Linked DNA regions of Homo sapiens. Each later gene encodes a partner of the first gene's protein in a complex. Each region holds a gene or a part of one and is shown in the gene's direction. Other genes may lie near its edges.

The links.
Region 2: EXOSC3 (region 1) and EXOSC9 share a complex: the UniProt entries of both Homo sapiens proteins name them as parts of the RNA exosome core complex.
Region 3: EXOSC3 (region 1) and EXOSC5 share a complex: the UniProt entries of both Homo sapiens proteins name them as parts of the RNA exosome core complex.

What each region holds. Positions count from the first base shown.
Region 1 is NC_000009.12:37,779,174-37,782,064, reverse strand, and holds the end of EXOSC3 (exosome complex component RRP40), read left to right. Parts: coding exon 1-79; intron 80-1,184; coding exon 1,185-1,386; 3' UTR 1,387-2,351; downstream 2,352-2,891. UniProt on the Homo sapiens protein: Non-catalytic component of the RNA exosome complex which has 3'->5' exoribonuclease activity and participates in a multitude of cellular RNA processing and degradation events.
Region 2 is NC_000004.12:121,804,323-121,811,362, forward strand, and holds part of EXOSC9 (exosome complex component RRP45), read left to right. Parts: intron 1-299; coding exon 300-437; intron 438-3,217; coding exon 3,218-3,300; intron 3,301-5,644; coding exon 5,645-5,777; intron 5,778-7,040. UniProt on the Homo sapiens protein: Non-catalytic component of the RNA exosome complex which has 3'->5' exoribonuclease activity and participates in a multitude of cellular RNA processing and degradation events.
Region 3 is NC_000019.10:41,387,320-41,394,359, reverse strand, and holds part of EXOSC5 (exosome complex component RRP46), read left to right. Parts: intron 1-1,379; coding exon 1,380-1,493; intron 1,494-2,397; coding exon 2,398-2,519; intron 2,520-4,454; coding exon 4,455-4,595; intron 4,596-6,756; coding exon 6,757-6,846; intron 6,847-7,040. UniProt on the Homo sapiens protein: Non-catalytic component of the RNA exosome complex which has 3'->5' exoribonuclease activity and participates in a multitude of cellular RNA processing and degradation events.

The sequences.
Region 1 (2,891 bases):
GCTGTGGACGAGCCAATGGAATGGGTGTCATTGGACAGGATGGTCTGCTTTTTAAAGTGACTCTGGGCTTAATTAGAAAGTAAGTCCTGATGTCTGCTGGCTTGACTGCTTTTTATAATTATACATTCTTGGAAAGTTGGTTAATCTTCAGGATTCAGATTCTTTGTAACGTTTGAATTTCTCCTCAGAGTTAGAAATCAGTATCCATTTTAACACATTTGGAAACTCATGAATTTAATCCTATCTTCTTGGAAACATATCAAATTCAGATGTGTTTGGCTGTGTAGTTTCTGGTGGGCTGATACTTCATGCCTTAAGCTCTTACTCTGTATTCATATCTTCCTTCCCAGGCCTGTTGCTTATTTGACTTAGCCCAAATGTGAAAACTGGCCTTTCCCCTGTTCTGAGTCACTTGAATACAGATGCAGTCTGCAGTTGTATAAAATTATCAATTTTTTCTAATTATGGGGGTCACACGCAGCTTAGATTGTGATGTTCAAGGTTATGTAGACATTCACAGAAGGCTTCTGACACTTGGTCATACTGAGGCATACTGAGGTTCATGCTGAGGCAGATTCTCTTTTTGGTGTTTAGAACTTTACCCACCCAAAGCTGTGCCATATTCAGGGGCTTTACTCCTAGAGCCAGTGAAGTTGAGAGCTATCTTGTATGCCTCTCCTTACTACATATCCTAAAGATCTGGAGAATTAAGTTTGGACATCAGAGAAGCATGTTTTTAACCAAGAAGCATGTTATTAACCAAGCACCACCCTTATGGTTTGAAAGAGCCAATGTTCCTCTCCAAGTACTGAATTTAACACAAGAGAATAATATGGCCAGGAAAATAAGTTTAAAGTGTCTTAACACTGTAGATAAAAAAAGTTATGATTCCCAGTCTAGAATTAAAGTGCTCTGACCATCTAGGGGAATGACTTTTACAAAGTTGGTAACCTAGGGAGTTTGATTTCTTTGTAAGGCATAGCCCACCTCTGTGATTTCTAGTATACCTTTGAACAGTGTAAAGTTCCTTCTTGGAAGAAAGGAGGCAGCAAATGTCATCACGTGCCTTGTTCTTGTTGAACAGCTATGGAGAACTGCTCAGAAAAGGAATCACATTCTAAAGGAGACTCCGGACACACCTTTGCCACTTCATTAAATTTCATTTTCTTTTCTCTTCCCACCAGGCTATTAGCTCCAGATTGTGAAATCATACAGGAAGTGGGAAAACTCTATCCACTGGAGATAGTATTTGGAATGAATGGAAGAATATGGGTTAAGGCAAAAACCATCCAGCAGACTTTAATTTTGGCAAACATTTTAGAAGCTTGTGAACACATGACGTCAGATCAAAGAAAACAGATCTTCTCCAGATTGGCAGAAAGTTGATATAGGTGGACTTTTTTACAGGTCAGTTGAGGCAAAAAACTATGGGTTTTTTCAGGTGAACCTCCCCCATTTAAATACTCAGAAGATAAGGTGTGAATGTATGTATTATTAGAGTCCGAAAGTATTTTTATAAGTTACTGGTTTTCACCCACGCTTTTGTGGGAGAGAAAATCATTGCAAAATCATTTTTTTTGTTCGGTACAATAAAGTTTACTAAAAAACAGTATTAGGGTTTATTTGGAGTTAACTCCCTTAGTAATTGCTACAGCTTCCATAATTAACTGGAGGTCAGCAGTAAAATAATTTTGTGATTATAACAGTAAGCCAGGTTCACCAGAGGAAATGTGGAATACCTAAGTATAAAGCAGCAAAGAAATGTCACCTGTAGTCCCATTATTCAGCGGGTGAGTATATAACAACGAAATACTTTTTCATTTACCAAGTATTGTGTTTTGCATGGATTAACTCCTTTATTCTAACTGCAGAAGACACTTATCCTCATAATTGAAACTGAGGCACAGAATTTAACTTGGCCTACATTCTCTATATTCATCAAATTGAAATTATAGTTATTATAGCTTATATGCCACTTTGTAATATACTTTTGTCTACTTCAAACAGCATGATACATTTCACAACTTTAGTCACATATTTCATGTTACAGGATATTTTTGAGTTTTATCATTATATAAATAACACTATGAGGATTTCTGAATCCAAATCTGGCCAAGTCTTATTTTGCTAAAATCATTTCCTAGGAGCTAAGCATAGAAAACTCTTCTATGCTATTTAGTATATTAACCAAAACCTTTAGAGGTAAAGAGACTGCCAGGTGATCCACATCAGTGATTCTTGGTTTCTAGACCTCTGAGAATATGTGAGATACAGATCCCCTGAAGCCTATCCATAGAAAGTCCTTTTTGGATCAAAGAGATTATAGAACTCTATTTGTTGATAAAGACCAAGGAGCTTCGTGTGTTTCTAATGTTTTCTAAGGACTGGATGGTTTTTAGTTCAATAGCTTTTAGGGGTACAAGTGGTTTTGGATTACACGGATGAATTGTATAGTGGTGAAGTCTGAGATTTTGGTGTACCAGTCACCTGAGTACTATATATTGTACCCAGTATGTAGTTTATCCTTCCCCCTTCCCTGTTCCGGGTCTCCAGTATCTGTTATACCACTCTGTGTGCTTACCTGTAGCTTAGCTCCCACTTAAAGTGGGAACATTTGGTATTTGGTTTTCCATTCCTGAGTTACTTCACTAAGAATAATAGCTTCCAATACTATCCAAGTTGCTGCAAAAGACATTTTTTATGGCTAATATTCCATGGGATATATATACCACACTTTATCCATTCATTGGTTGATGGGTACTTAGGTTGGTCCCATATCTTTTATTATGAACTGTCTAGCCAGTTTTTAAATAGAAAAGTACTGATTAGGTGAACAGTTCCTTAGGAATTAAATTGTGAAGGGGAGGGGACACAGCAGAGAAGTAATCTGT
Region 2 (7,040 bases), on another chromosome or scaffold:
TGGTTTTTAACAGACATGATAAAAATGTAATTAGATTTGAGGTTAGGAAAATCGTAGTATTAAATGTTAGAGTGGTTCTGTTTATTTAAAGTATGTGTTCTGTTGTTAAACGACCCACATAGTATTTCAGATGTTTGGCTTAAATTTTCTAAAATATATTTTTTGTTGACAAAGTACAAGGAGTAACTGCGTGTTTTAACAGCAAGAAAAAATAATTTGTACACAATGTTACTTTTCCTGATAAATAGCCACTGGTTGTAATCAGTTAGGATTTATTTTTATTTTAAATTCACTATCAGGTTTGGCAAATACGTGTAGACCTACATTTATTAAATCATGATGGAAATATTATTGATGCTGCCAGCATTGCTGCAATCGTGGCCTTATGTCATTTCCGAAGACCTGATGTCTCTGTCCAAGGAGATGAAGTAACACTGGTAAGCTCCTATGTGAACCAGGATCCTTGATATGAATGAATGAGGAGGGTCTTAAATGTGCAGGCAACTTGTTTTTAGTGAAGTTATGTTGTAGATGGCAATTGGGTCGTTTCTAAAAATTTGTTTGTAAGACTGAAACTGCATATGGTCAAAATTGCCCTGGAAATCTCTTAACCGTTCCTCTGTTGAAACATTTGTCAGTAAGAACATACCCTAGCCTGGTTTTCCAGAATAGAATTAGATGACTATTTTGGATTGAACATTAGATGAAGTGGTTGACTTATGTTTAGGGGCCATATGTGTGAAAAATACATGAATCTCAGCACAGTGAGATGCTTACCCTGCAAGAGGCATGCAATAGCTGAAAAGCACTGAGGAATCAGCAGGTTCATATTTGTCTCCAGGACTTTTGTTCATTAGGCAAAGAGATGACGAAAGTCCATCAGAAATACCTGGAGGGCTTGTTAAAACGTATAGCCAGACTACTCCCAAAGTAAAACAGGGCTAGGACTTAAGATTTTGTACTTCTAACTTTGAGTTCTTAGGTAATACTGATGTTGCTGGTCCAGGGAGCACATTTTGAAAACCATTGACCTACGTTGTCTTTATCTTTTGTTCTGAGTATGTCAGTTTTGATTTATATAAATTACATGCTAGAATAGTGAAAGTGCACTGTAGTTGTAGTTTGAATCCTGAAGTTGCAAAAGGACACATCAGATGCCCAGATTTTCTAAGCAATGATTCATAATTTTGATTTTGGGCAGTAGACTGAAGCAGAACCATTAAAAAGTGAGAAATAGGGACAAAGGTTTATTAACAGTAGAGGTAATATTCTTTTAGAGGAGGGAGTTTATATAAGGAAGTGAAAAAAAGTAGAAAGCGATTACTACACTTGAAAAATCAATTAAAGAATACTGTGGTGTTATTGCTAGTGGGAATGTAAAATGGTACAGCCATGTTGGAAAAGTTTGGTAGCTTAAGTTTTAAGTGTAGACAGCATTCTATATTCAGAAAAATAACAGTAGAAGAAAATATTCTTTTTTTTTTTTCTTTTTTTTTTTTTTGAGACAGGATCTCACTCCGTTGTCCAGGCTGGGGTGCAGTGGCGTGATCTCGGCTCACTGTAACCTCTGCCTCCTGGACTTAAGCAATCCTCCCACCTCAGTCTCCTGAGTAGTGGGGACTACAGGTATGTGCCACCCACTTGACTAATTTTTGTATTTTTTGTAGAGATATGGTTTCACCAAATTGCCCAGGCTGGTCTCGAACTCCTGGGCTCAAGTGATCCTCCCACCTTGGCCTCCCAAACTGTTGGGATTACAGGCATGAGCCACCATGCCCAGCTGAAAACACTCTCTTATATGTACATCTTTCAGCAGGTTTGACCTTGTAATTTTTTTTTTTTCTTTTGAGACAAAGTTTCACTGTTGTTGCCTAGGCTAGAGTACAATGGCGTGATCTCGGCTCACTGCAGCCTCCGCCTCCCGGATTCAAGCGATTCTCCTGCCTCAGCCTCCCAAGTAGCTGGGATTGCAGGCATGTGCAACCACGCCTGGCTAATTTTGTATTTTTAGTAGAGACAGGGTTTCTCCATGTTGGTCAGGCTGGTCTTGAACTCCCAACCTCGTCCACATCGGCCTTCCAAAGTGCTGGGATTACAGACGTGAGCCACTGCCCCCAGCCGACCTTATAATGTTAAAACAAACTGCAATGGCTTAAAATTAGAAAAAAAAAAAAAAATTCTAGCAATTCCATGCCTAAGAATCTACGGGAGGAATAAGAGCTTACTACGTTCAGAGACTTCAATGCAAGTGTTCATAGCATCATTTGTTAGCCAGAAACTGGAAACAATCCAAATGTCCAGCTGGTGAATAGATAAAATGTCATATATACAAATAATGGAATGCTGTTCAGTAATGAAAAGAACTGAACTACTGATAAATGCTGCAAGGTGCATGAAACATGCTAAGTTGAAAGAAGCCAGGCACAAAACATTACAACTTTTTTTTTTTCCATTTATATAGAATGCTCAGAAAGTCAGATTTATAGAGACAGAAATAAGATAGATCAGTGATTCCTTGGGGCTAGGGTGGGAGTACACCAGACTCCTACGGACTACAGACAGATTCAAAGGAATTTTGGGGAGTAATGGAAATGTTAAAAAACTAGATTGTGGTGATGGGTCCGTAAATGTATCCATAACTATACATTTACTAAAAATTGAATCATATACTTAAAATGAGTGGATTTTGGCTGGGCGTGGTGGCTCACACCTGTAATTCCAGCACTTTGGGAGGCCAAGGCAGGTGGATCACCTCAGGTTGGGAGTTCGAGACCAGCCTGACCAACATGGAGAAACCCCGTCTACTAAAAATACAAAATTAGCCGGGCGTGGTGGCACATGCCTGTAATCCCACCTACTTGGGAGGCTGACATAGGAGAATCGCATGAGCCCAGGAGGCGGAGGTTGCCGGGAGCTGACATCTTGCCATTGCACTCCAGCCTGGGCAACAAGAGTGAAACTTCATCTCCAAAAAAAAAAGTGGATTTTATGGGATGTAAATTATGTGTCAGTAAATTTTTGAAAAAGCTTTTTGAAAAAGTTGTACAGTTTGAGGAACGTGAGTGGCAAAATCAAACTGGTAATTAATTAAAAGAAGTTATTTAGGTACTCAAAAGAATAAAGGAACTTCATTTTTTAGTATTTGATGTGCAAGATGATTTTTTTGGATGTTCATAACTTAGTGACTATAATTATTAAACATTTTCTTTTGAAACAGTATACACCTGAAGAGCGTGATCCTGTACCATTAAGTATCCACCACATGCCCATTTGTGTCAGTTTTGCCTTTTTCCAGCAAGGGTAAGCCTCGCCTTATTATGGGCCAAAATTACAAATGCAGCTAGGAATTTTATTGCTCTACTCAAGTATGTCATGTTAATATTAAACAAACACTTCCCTTAATAGTAAAGCACCTTGTATTTCCTTTCTTTCTTTGTAAGGGCATTAGTTGGCAAAGAACTTTCTCAGTAGAAGTAACAAAACTCTTATACTTTGATGAAGATACTTCCCAACATTTTTCTTTTCATGGGATACTTATAAACTTAGGAATTTACTATGGCATGGTAGTGTTTTATGTTTCCTAAGGCTGTACAGTGGTTAAGAGAATTATATGCTAGGCTCTAATTTGGGACAGTGGGGTGAGAATTACTGTGGGTTATTGGAAGATAGGGGACTTTGGAACATATTAGATGGAGTAGTTCTAGGAGTCGGTTACAAGGGGGGATGGTTCACAGACTGGAGGAAAAAAATCTAATGTTCTTAAGTTTTCCAGCGTTTTCATTACTTAACTGCTAAATCCTCCTGTGGCAGAAAACTTGGAGTTTTTCAGGTCCATTTAATGGTGCTTTCAAATGAAAACTTGAGCCTTAAATTCCTTTAGAAACAAGGGAAGATAAAAATATTTCACACAGTGTTGTGCACAAGGACTAGAGAAACACTTACAAGTTTTAGTGATTGTAAGTGTAGAGTTTTATCAGAGGAAAATGGGCCAGCATTGTCCAGTAGAAATAAAATGTGAACCATATATATAATTTTCTTATTTTCTTCTTTTTTTTGAGATGAGGTCTGGCTTTGTTGCCCAATTTGGATTTCAGCAGCGTGATTTTTGCTCATTACAACCTCTGCTTTCTGGGCTCAATGAATTCTTCAGCCTCAGCCTTCCGAGTAGTTGAGACTACAGGCATGCACCACCATGCCTAGCTAATTTTTGTATTTTTTTTGTAAAAAAGAGGTTTTGCCATATTGCCCAGGCTGGTCTGGAACTCCTGAGTTCAAAAGTGATCTAGCTACCTCAGCCTCCCAAAATGCTGGATTACGGGGATGAGCCACCATGCCTGGCTGTTTCTTTTTCTTTTCTTTTCTTTTTTTTTTTTAAGACAAGGTCTCCCTCTGTCACCCAGGCTTGAGTGCAGTGGCGTGATCATGTTTTATTGCAGCCTCAACCTCTCAGGCTCAAGTGATTCTCCTGCCTCAGCCTCCTGAGTAGCTGGGACCACAGGTGCACACCATGCCCAGCTAATTTCTTTATTTTTTGTAGAGATGGGATTTCACTACGTTGCCCAGGATGGTCTGAAGCTCCTGGGCTCAAGTGATCCGCCTATCTCCACCTCCCAAAGTGCTAGGATTATAGGCTTGAGCCACCATGCGCAGCATTTGTTACTTTTTAAATTTTTTTTTTATTTTTTTGTGACAGGGTCTCACTCTCACCCAGGCTGGAGTGCAGTGGTGTGATCATAGCTCACTGCAGCCTACTTCTGAGCTCAAGTGATCCTCCCACCTCAGCCTTCCAAGTAGCTGGGACTATAGGTGTGTGGCATACCCAGCTAATTTAAAAAAATTTTTTTTGTAGAGACAGGGTCTCACTTTGTTGCCCAGGCTGGTCCCAAACTCATGAGCTCAAGTGATCTTGCAGTCCTGACCTCCCAAAGTGCTGGGATTACAAGCATGAGCCACCATGCCTGGCCTCATATGTGTAATTTAATATTTTCCAGTAGTCACATTAAAAAGGTAAAATTAATTTTTATATATTTTTAATTAATATATTTTCACGTTAATGAAATAAAATGATTAATGAAATAATCAGTATTTTAATAATTACTCATGAGATAGTCTACATTCTTTTGTTTCCACTAAGTCTCTGAAATCCAATATTTTACATACTCTGATTACATTTCAAGGGCTCAGTAACCACAGGTGACTATTGGCAAATGTACCGGACAGTGCAGAAATAGACAGTATTTTTTTCATGAGCCATTAGCAGAACGCAGTAGAACTTTGGAGTACAGGACATTAGGGCAACTTTAGGGTTAACCAATTTAACATTATCTAAGTTTTTATTAATGAGCCAGAAGTCATTTAATCAAAGAGATAGCATTAGGTTTAGATTATATATCATTTAAGTAAATCCAATCTGAACTTAATGTGATTTCATTGTAATAACTAGAGATACCCACTTAGCATTCATTTGTGTTCATAAACACAATAATTTTCTTGTCTCTTTCCCCATTTCAGTGACCCAAATCCGTAGGCTCAGACCTTTATTCTCTGTTGACTTTATTGATGCCATCTTTTAAAAATTCATTACCCAAGAAATGGTAAGCATTCGGTCTCAGATTTGTTCAGGTCCATTTAACATTCATTTCAGAACATATTTATTGGTGGATCCCAATGAACGAGAAGAACGTGTGATGGATGGCTTGCTGGTGATTGCCATGAACAAACATCGAGAGATTTGTACTATCCAGTCCAGTGGTGGGATAATGCTACTAAAAGATCAAGTTAGTGCTTTGATTAATGTCCCATTAATAATAGGTTGCTTCTCTTTAGATGCTTTTTCTTGTCTTTTAACAAAAATCCAATGGGGATACTTCCAGTGATTTATTCTAGGATGTGTTAGAATCTGGTTTCAGTACTGTCACTATTAAATACATTCTGTTGACTGGTGGCTATGAGGTATCCTCCTCCTTCCTACCTTGGTGCTCCCGTGTCTGGCCTGCTGGAGTCTGACCCTTCCACCTAGAAGCAGGGTCTAGTGAAGAAAAAGATTTATATCCCTATTAAAAAAAAAAAAAAAGTGGCCGGGCATGTTGGCTTACGCCTGTAATCCCAGCACTTTGGGAGGCCGTGGCTGGTGGATCACTTGAGGTCAGGAGTTCAAGACCAGCCTGGCCAACATGGTGAAACCCATCTCTACTAAAAATACAAAATTAGCTGGGTGTGGTGGCTGGCGCACGCCTGTAATCCCAGCTACTTGGGAGGCTGAGGCAGGAGAATTGCTTGAATCCGGGAGGCAGAGGTTGCAGTGAGCTGAGATCGTGCCATTGTTCTCCAGTCTGGGCAACAACAGCAAAATTCCATCTGAAAAAATAAAAAATAAAATAAATAAATAAATATTAGCCGAGCTTGGTGGTGCATGCGTGTGGTCCTGGCCACTTGGGAGGCTGAGGTGGGAGGATTGCTTGAGCCTAGGAGGTGGAGGTTGAGTGAGCTGAGATCGTGTCACTGCATTCCAGCCTGGGCTACGGAATGAGACCCTGTCTCAAAAGCAAATAAAAATTTTTAAACATCCAATAGTAGACATTATGTAAAAAGATAGTTTTACTTGCACTTTTAGAACTACAATTGGCAGTAGTTCTGAAACCCAGCTATATATCATATTCACATGGGAGCTTTTAGAAAATAGATCTCCATATAGCATACAGTGTAGATGATTAAAAGCTTCTTTAGTTTGAATTCTAGTTCTGCCCCCATACTAGCTGATCTTGGGCAAATGATTTTATATCTTTGGGTCTCACTTTCTTTATCTGTAAAATAGGGAATGATGTTATTGCCAACACCTTGTTGTTATAAGGATATAAATATATTGCACAGTGTCTAGCACACATTTATTAAGTGTGCAATAAATGTTAGTTTCTGGTATCATCATCATCATCTTTACCAGCATCACAAGTACTACCCAGATTACCCACAGAAAAAGGAAGTTAGTGCATCCTGGAGCATATATGTGTCTGTGGCCTCTTCTGTGGTATCTTTTATACTGT
Region 3 (7,040 bases), on another chromosome or scaffold:
ATTGTCCAGGCTGGAGTGCAATGGTGTGATCTCGGCTCACTGCAACCTCCGCCTCCCCGGTTCCAGCAATTCTCCTGCGTCGGCCTCCCAAGTAGCTGAGATTACAGGCACCCACCACTATGCCCAGCTAATTTTTGTATCTTTAGTAGAGATAGGGTTTCACCATGTTGACTAGGATGGTCTCAAACTCCTGACCTCAGGTGATCCACCCACCTCAGCCTCCCAAAGTGCTGGGATTACAGCAGACAGTACTAGAAGCCAGGCTGTTTATTTCTTAGGTTTTACCTCCTGTACCCCGTTCATAGCTTCTGGGGAAATAAGGAATCAGGATTCATTCCAGATATTATCCCTTTCTCAGGTGTCCAGACTGATGCAAAATTTGGGGGCCAGTGCCTAAGGGAAGAGCTGGGCTGGGGAAGCTTTGGAAAGAGAAGTTGAGAGCAGCTGCAGTAAGAGGGAGGATGGTTAGCTTTCAGGAAGAACTTCCTGTTAAAAGTTACTAATACCAGCCGGGCACAGTGGCTCACGCCTGTAATCCCAGCGCTTTGGGAGGCGGGCAGATCATGAGGTCAGGAAGTTCGAGACCAGCCTGACCAACATGGTGAAACCCAGTCTCTACTAAAAATAAAAAAATTAGCCAGGTGTGGTGGCGCGCGCCTGTAATCCCAGCTACTCAGTAGGCTGAGGCAGGAGAACTGCTTGAACCCGGGAGGCAGAGGTTGCGGTGAGCCGAGATTACGCCACTGCACTCCAGCCTGGGCGACAGAGCAAGACTCCATCTCATTAAAAAAAAAAAAATTACTAATATCAGGGCCAGGCGTGGTAGCTCACGCCTGTAATCCTAGCACCTTGGGATTACAGTTGCCCAGGAGTTCGAAACCCGCCTGAGCAACATGGCAAAATCCCCTCTCTACTAAAAATATAAAAATTAGTCAGGCATGGTGGCACATGCCTGTAGTTCCAGCTACTTGGGAGGCTGAGGCGGGAGGATCACTTGAGCCCAGAAGGTCAAGGCTGCAATGAGCCGTGATGGCACCACTGCACTCCAGCCTGGGCAATGAGAGTGAGACCCTGCCTGAATGCCTGAATGGACGAATGTTACTAATACAGCTAAAGTCTGTTGCACATTCAGCGTGAGCCCCGCAGTGTTCTAAGTGTTTTCTGTGAATTGTGTCCTTTGATCCTCACAAGACGCTAGCGGGGAGGGACTGCTATTTTCCCCATTTTACAAATGAGAGAAATGAAGTGAGTGCTCAAAGAATCAGTACCAACAAATGGCGGGGGTGACGTGGGGAGCCCTGGCCGTCAGGCTCAGTGCCACAAATGGGGCCCCAGGAGCAGGGAAGCTGTGAGTGAGGCCCTCCCTGCTGTCTCCTCAGGTGACACCTCTGTCCTGGCGGGTGTGTACGGGCCGGCCGAGGTGAAGGTCAGCAAAGAGATTTTCAACAAGGCCACACTCGAAGTGATCCTGAGGCCGAAGATTGGGCTGCCTGGTAATTGGGCCCTGCTGAACCTCTGAGTGGTGCCCAGTTTGTCAAAATCACCCCCCCAGCTCCTCCCTACCAGCTGCCCCGAGTCTCCACTCCCCGCTTGGGTCTCCACTCAGCTGTTTCTGTCTTTAACTCTCCGCCTCTAATTAATAACTCATCTTCTGTTGCTTCTCTCTCTGCCTCTAATTTCTCCCTCCCTCTTTTCTCCCTCTCTCTGCCTCCACTCTCATTCATTCCATTAACCTGTTTTTCTTTTATTTATTTTTATTTATTTATTTTTTTTTTGGAGACAGTGTCTCGCTCTGTCACCCCGGCTGGAGTGCAGTGGCACGATCTCAGCTCACTGCAACCTCTGCCTCCCAGATTCAAGCAATTCCCCTGGCTCAGCCTCCCGAGTCGCTGGGATTACAGGCACGTGCCACCATGCCCACTAATTTTTTGTATTTTTTTAGTAGAGATGGGGTTTCACCATGTTGGCCAGGATGGTCTTGATCTCCTGACCTCAAGTGATCCGCCCGCCTCAGCCCCCCAAAGTGTTGGGATTACAGGCGCGAGCCACTGTGCCTGGACCATTAACCTGTTTTTCCACCCTTTTACCCTCATATCCCTCAGTCCCCACTGACTGGACCTGCTAGGGTGGGAGTGGGCGTGGGTAGCAGCACAGACATGGAACTCCCAGGTCTTCTTCCCTTGGATGGTTCCCTTGGTGGATGCTGGAGGTAGCAGGGGTCAGTGGATGGCAGTCAGGCCTTGCCTTCTTCCCACTGGAATCTTCCATCATCCCTGCAGGTAACTGCACCATCCCAGGCTGAGACCGTGAGCCCTTTCTGGGAATTTGGGTGAGGCGTATGGAGGAAGGTGAGTCAAATGAAGGGGAAGACCCTGAACCTCTCTTCAATTTCCCCAGGTGTTGCAGAGAAGAGCCGGGAGCGGCTGATCAGGAACACGTGCGAGGCGGTGGTGCTGGGCACGTTGCACCCCCGCACCTCCATCACCGTGGTGCTGCAGGTTGTCAGCGATGCCGGCTCTGTATCCTTTCTGCCAGGCCTCCTCCTCCAGGAAGTCTCCTGATTGCTTCCCTCCTGGCGGATACATATACCCTCACTGCTAGCCAGAAAGCCTTCAAACACTTGACAGGTACCAGCTCACTGAAGAAGGAGAGCAAACAGCCTGGGTGCTTACTTATGTGCCAGGCACTGTTCTGTGTGCCTTATGCACATTAACTCATGTAATATAGCACATGCCCTTATGATCCCCGTGGAAGTGGCAGAGCCAAGACTTAGACCCAGACCGTCTAGTTCTAGAGCCCACGGACCCTGGCAGATGAGTGTTCTTATGTTCGCATGTTTCAGGTGACAAAACTGAGGCCCAGAGAGGGGAAGGGGCTTGCCCAAGGTCACACAGCTGGAAGGCAGCACAGGCAGGACTCAAGCCCAGGCCAGTCTGACTCCAGAGCCTGTGCCAATCACTTCTTTTGTTTTTTGGGTTTTTTTGTTTGTTTTTGAGACAGGCTCTCACTCTGTCACCCAGGCTGGATGCAGTGGTGCAATGTCAGCTTACTGCAACCTCTACCTCCCGGGCTCAAGCGATTCCCATGCTTTAGCCTCCTGAATTACAGGTGGAATTACAGGTGCCTGCCACCACGCCAGGCTAATTTTTGTATTTTTAGTAGAGACGGGGTTTTGCTGTGTTGGCCAGGCTGGTCTCGAACTCCTGACCTCGAGTGATCAGTCCACCTTGGCCTCCCAAAGTGCTGGGGTTACAGGCATGAGCTACTGTGCCCGGCTGGCAATCACTTCTACTCGGCACCTCAGTGGATTTCAGGCCCTCAGTGCTGGGGGCGCCCTGAGCAGACAGCAGCTGAGTCAGGAGCGTGGCCTTGTAAGATCTCCATGTCTGAGGTGCGAGAGGTTGAGGTTGAGGACTAGAATTAGACACTGTAGAAGGCTTTACTGGAACGTGGCCCTGAACTGGACAGACATTTTATGGATGGGCAGAGAGAGAAGGTATTGTGACCCCATTTTACAGAAGTGGAAAGTGAAGCCCAGAGGAAGGCGTGGAGGATCAGCAGCAGAGCTGGAACCGGTTGACTAAAGCTGTGGTCTTTGTCTGGCTGCTAGGCCTGGAGAAGAAACACATTAGGAAACTGAGGCAGAGCCAGCTGACTCCCAACCTGTGCTCTCTTTCCACTGTGAGCTTCCTGCAGGCAGCAGCGAGGTGGCTCTTCCTCCATTGCCCTGCCAGCTCTGTCACCGGGGAGTGGCTGCTACCCAAGTTTCGGGCCTGGCTTTGCCAGTGCCTCCCCCTCGTGTCTTTGGAAGGTTTCTTCCCCTCTCTGACCCTATTTGCCAACAAATGTGTGGTACGTACTTCAGTACATACCTATTGAATATTATTATATTCCCCATCTAACAGATGAGGAGATTGAGACTCAAGGAGTAAGTCACTTGTTCAAGGTCACACAGCTGAGCAAAACTAGGTCTGGAACCCAGGGCTACTTGATCCCCGGACCACTTTTAACCACTCTGCCATACTGCCCTTCTGTGACCGATTAGTGATGTCTGCCATAGGCATCAGCCTGGTGGAGGGAGGCATGGATCTGCTCTGCTGGCCAGGCCTACAGTAGAAACTTCTTAGGCTGGGCGTGGTGGCTCATGCCTGTAATCCCAGCACTTTGGGAGGCCGAGGCAGGTGGATCACCTGAGGTCAGGAGTTTTCAGACCAGCCTGGCCAACATAGTGAAACCCCATCTCTACTAAAAATACAAAGATTAGCCGGGTGTGGTGGTGGGTGCCTGTAATCCCAGCTACTCAGGAGGCTGAGGCAGGAGAATTGCTTGAACCCAGGAGGTGGAGGTTGCAGTGAGCCGAGATCACACCATTGCACTCCAGCCTGGGCAACAAGAGCGAAACTCCATCTCCAAAAAAAAAAAAAAGAAACTTAACCATTTCCTGTGGTGCTCAGCTCCTGGCCTGTTGTCTGAATGCCGCCTGCATGGCATTGGTGGATGCAGGTGTGCCCATGCGGGCTCTCTTCTGTGGGGTCGCCTGCGCCCTGGACTCTGATGGGACCCTCGTGCTGGATCCTACATCCAAGCAAGAAAAGGTAGGTGTGAAGACCAGGGTGGCTGAAGGGCAGAGGCCAGACAGCTGCCCGTCCCTTCCTCCAGGCCTCGCTTCTCTACAGACAGTCGGCTCATGCCACCTCAATCCCACTTAGCAAGGGCTGCTCTAATCATCATGGTTCATTTAGCAGCAAGTGCTGGAAACCCAGCTCAGACTTGCTTAATTAGGAAGGAAATGTGGGGCCGGGAGCGGTGGCTCACGCCTGTAATCCCAGCACTTTGGGAGGCTGAGGTGGGTGGATCACCTGAGGTCGGGAGTTCGAGATCAGTCTGACCAACATGGAGAAACCCCATCTCTACTAAAAATACAAAATTAGCCAGGTGTGGTGGCGCACGCCTGTAATCCCAGCTACTCAGGAGGCTGAGGCAGGAGAATCGCTTGAACCCAGGACGCGGAGGTTGTGGTGAGCCGAGATCGCGCCATTGCACTCCAGCCTGGGCAATAAGAGTGAAACTCCATCTCAAAAAATATAAATAAATAAACTAGAAAGGAAATGTATGGCCAGGTGTGGTGGCTCACACCTGTAATGCCAGCACTTTGGGAGTCTGAGGCAGGCAGATCACCTGAGGCTGGGAGTTGAAGACCAGCCTGGCCAACATTGCAAAACCCTGTCTCTACTAAAAATACAAAGGTTAGCTAGGCATGGTGGCACACATCTGTAATCTCAGCTACTCAGGAGGCTGAGGCAGGAGAATCACTTAAACCTGGAGGGTGGAGGTTACAGTGAGCTGAGATCGCACCACTTCACTCCAGCCTGGATGAAAGAGTGAAACTCTCAAAAATAAAATAAAATAAAACCAGGACTTTAAACACCATCAGGATGTCCTTGCTTCACTTCTCGTCCCTGCCTTTCTCTGCACATCAGCTTCATTCTTTCTGGCCAGCACCTTTCCTGAGGCTGGGACTGACCCCTTAAGCTCCATTTCCATCCTAGGAGGCTCAAAAGCAAACGAGAAGAGAGTTTTCCTCATCGGCTCAGGTGCAGTGTCCTAAGCTCAAGTTATTCTGAGTTTTCTGCCCAGTGCTATAATGGTCCCCTCTAGTCAAGAAGACGGAAACCACTTGGAGGGTTTCAGATGGAGGGAGTTAAATGCAGGGACTTTGTAACAACAGTGTTGAGGAACTAGAGGAGGAAAAAGGAAGCAGGAGTGACACCCAGAGATGAGAAACCCCTCCCAGACCTGGACTGAACCTGCGAGCCACCTCCTGTTCTGTCGTGTTGGAGACATCATCTCAATTGGTTCTGGATGCACATAGCATGTCCTGCTTCTGCCCTGGCCACTGAGGTCCAGAACCCACCCCACCTCCATGGCTGTCACACAGCCACAGCCATCAGCACCTGCCATTGTCCATGAGGACCAGGGTGCTGCTTTTCTTCCATTCTCCCACCTCATTACTGATGGAAACTAGCTGGTAAGGGAGTCTGGGAAATACAGCTTGCTGGCTTCCAGCCCCTGTGGGACAGAGCATGGAAGGGGGACTGGGAGGCCGAGAGGTACCAGATAAGTGAGTGGCACTATGGCTAGCCCCTTGGGGCAGGAATACTGAGCTTGGAAGCCCCTGTCAGAACCACGTGGTTGGAATAAGGGGCATGGAGTACAGTTCTACAAAGGAAAGGCAGAGGGCTATACCCAGGGAAGTAGGGAAGGGGTAGCGTAGACAAAAAATGGCTGCGCTTGATGCTTGATAGGTGAGCGCCTGGCTATGGAAAGGGAGAGGCCTGGAGGCCAAGGGTCCGGAGTCCCCTCAGTGGGACTGGCTGCAAGTGTGTGGTGGGAAGGGGAGCGTTGAGACAGGGTCTCACTGTCGCCCATGCTGGAGTGTAGTACGATCACAGCTCACTGCAGCTTCAAACTCCTGGGCTCAAGCAGTCCTCCCACCTCTGCCTCCTGAGTAGCTGGGAACTCAGACATGCACCCCCACACCCAGCTACCTTTTTTTTTTTTTTTTTTCTGAGATGGGGTCTCCCTCTGTTGCCCAGATTGGTCTTGAGTTTCTGGCCTCAAGCAGTGCCCTGCCTTGGCCTCCCAAAGTGGTGAGATTATGGTCATGAGCCACTGTGCCTGGCCAAAGGACTGGCTGAGATTTTATCTGAGGGGAAGGTCCTAGGTCCCCCACCGCCTTCTACCCCTTGTCCCTAGGAGGCCCGGGCAGTCCTGACCTTTGCCCTGGACAGCGTGGAACGGAAGCTGCTGATGTCCAGCACCAAGGGGCTCTACTCAGACACTGAGGTACCAGCATGGGGATGAGGGGAAAAGCCAGAACCTTCCTTCCCACTGACATACGGTCTTGTCCCAACTCTGCCCTGGATTCTGAGAGGCTTCAGGAGAGCCTCTTAAATTTCTTCTTGTAAAAAGGGAGTTTTCAAACTTTGTGGACCCAGAAACCTTTGCGGAAATGTTTAAGGGAAGCCCAATTTATAACA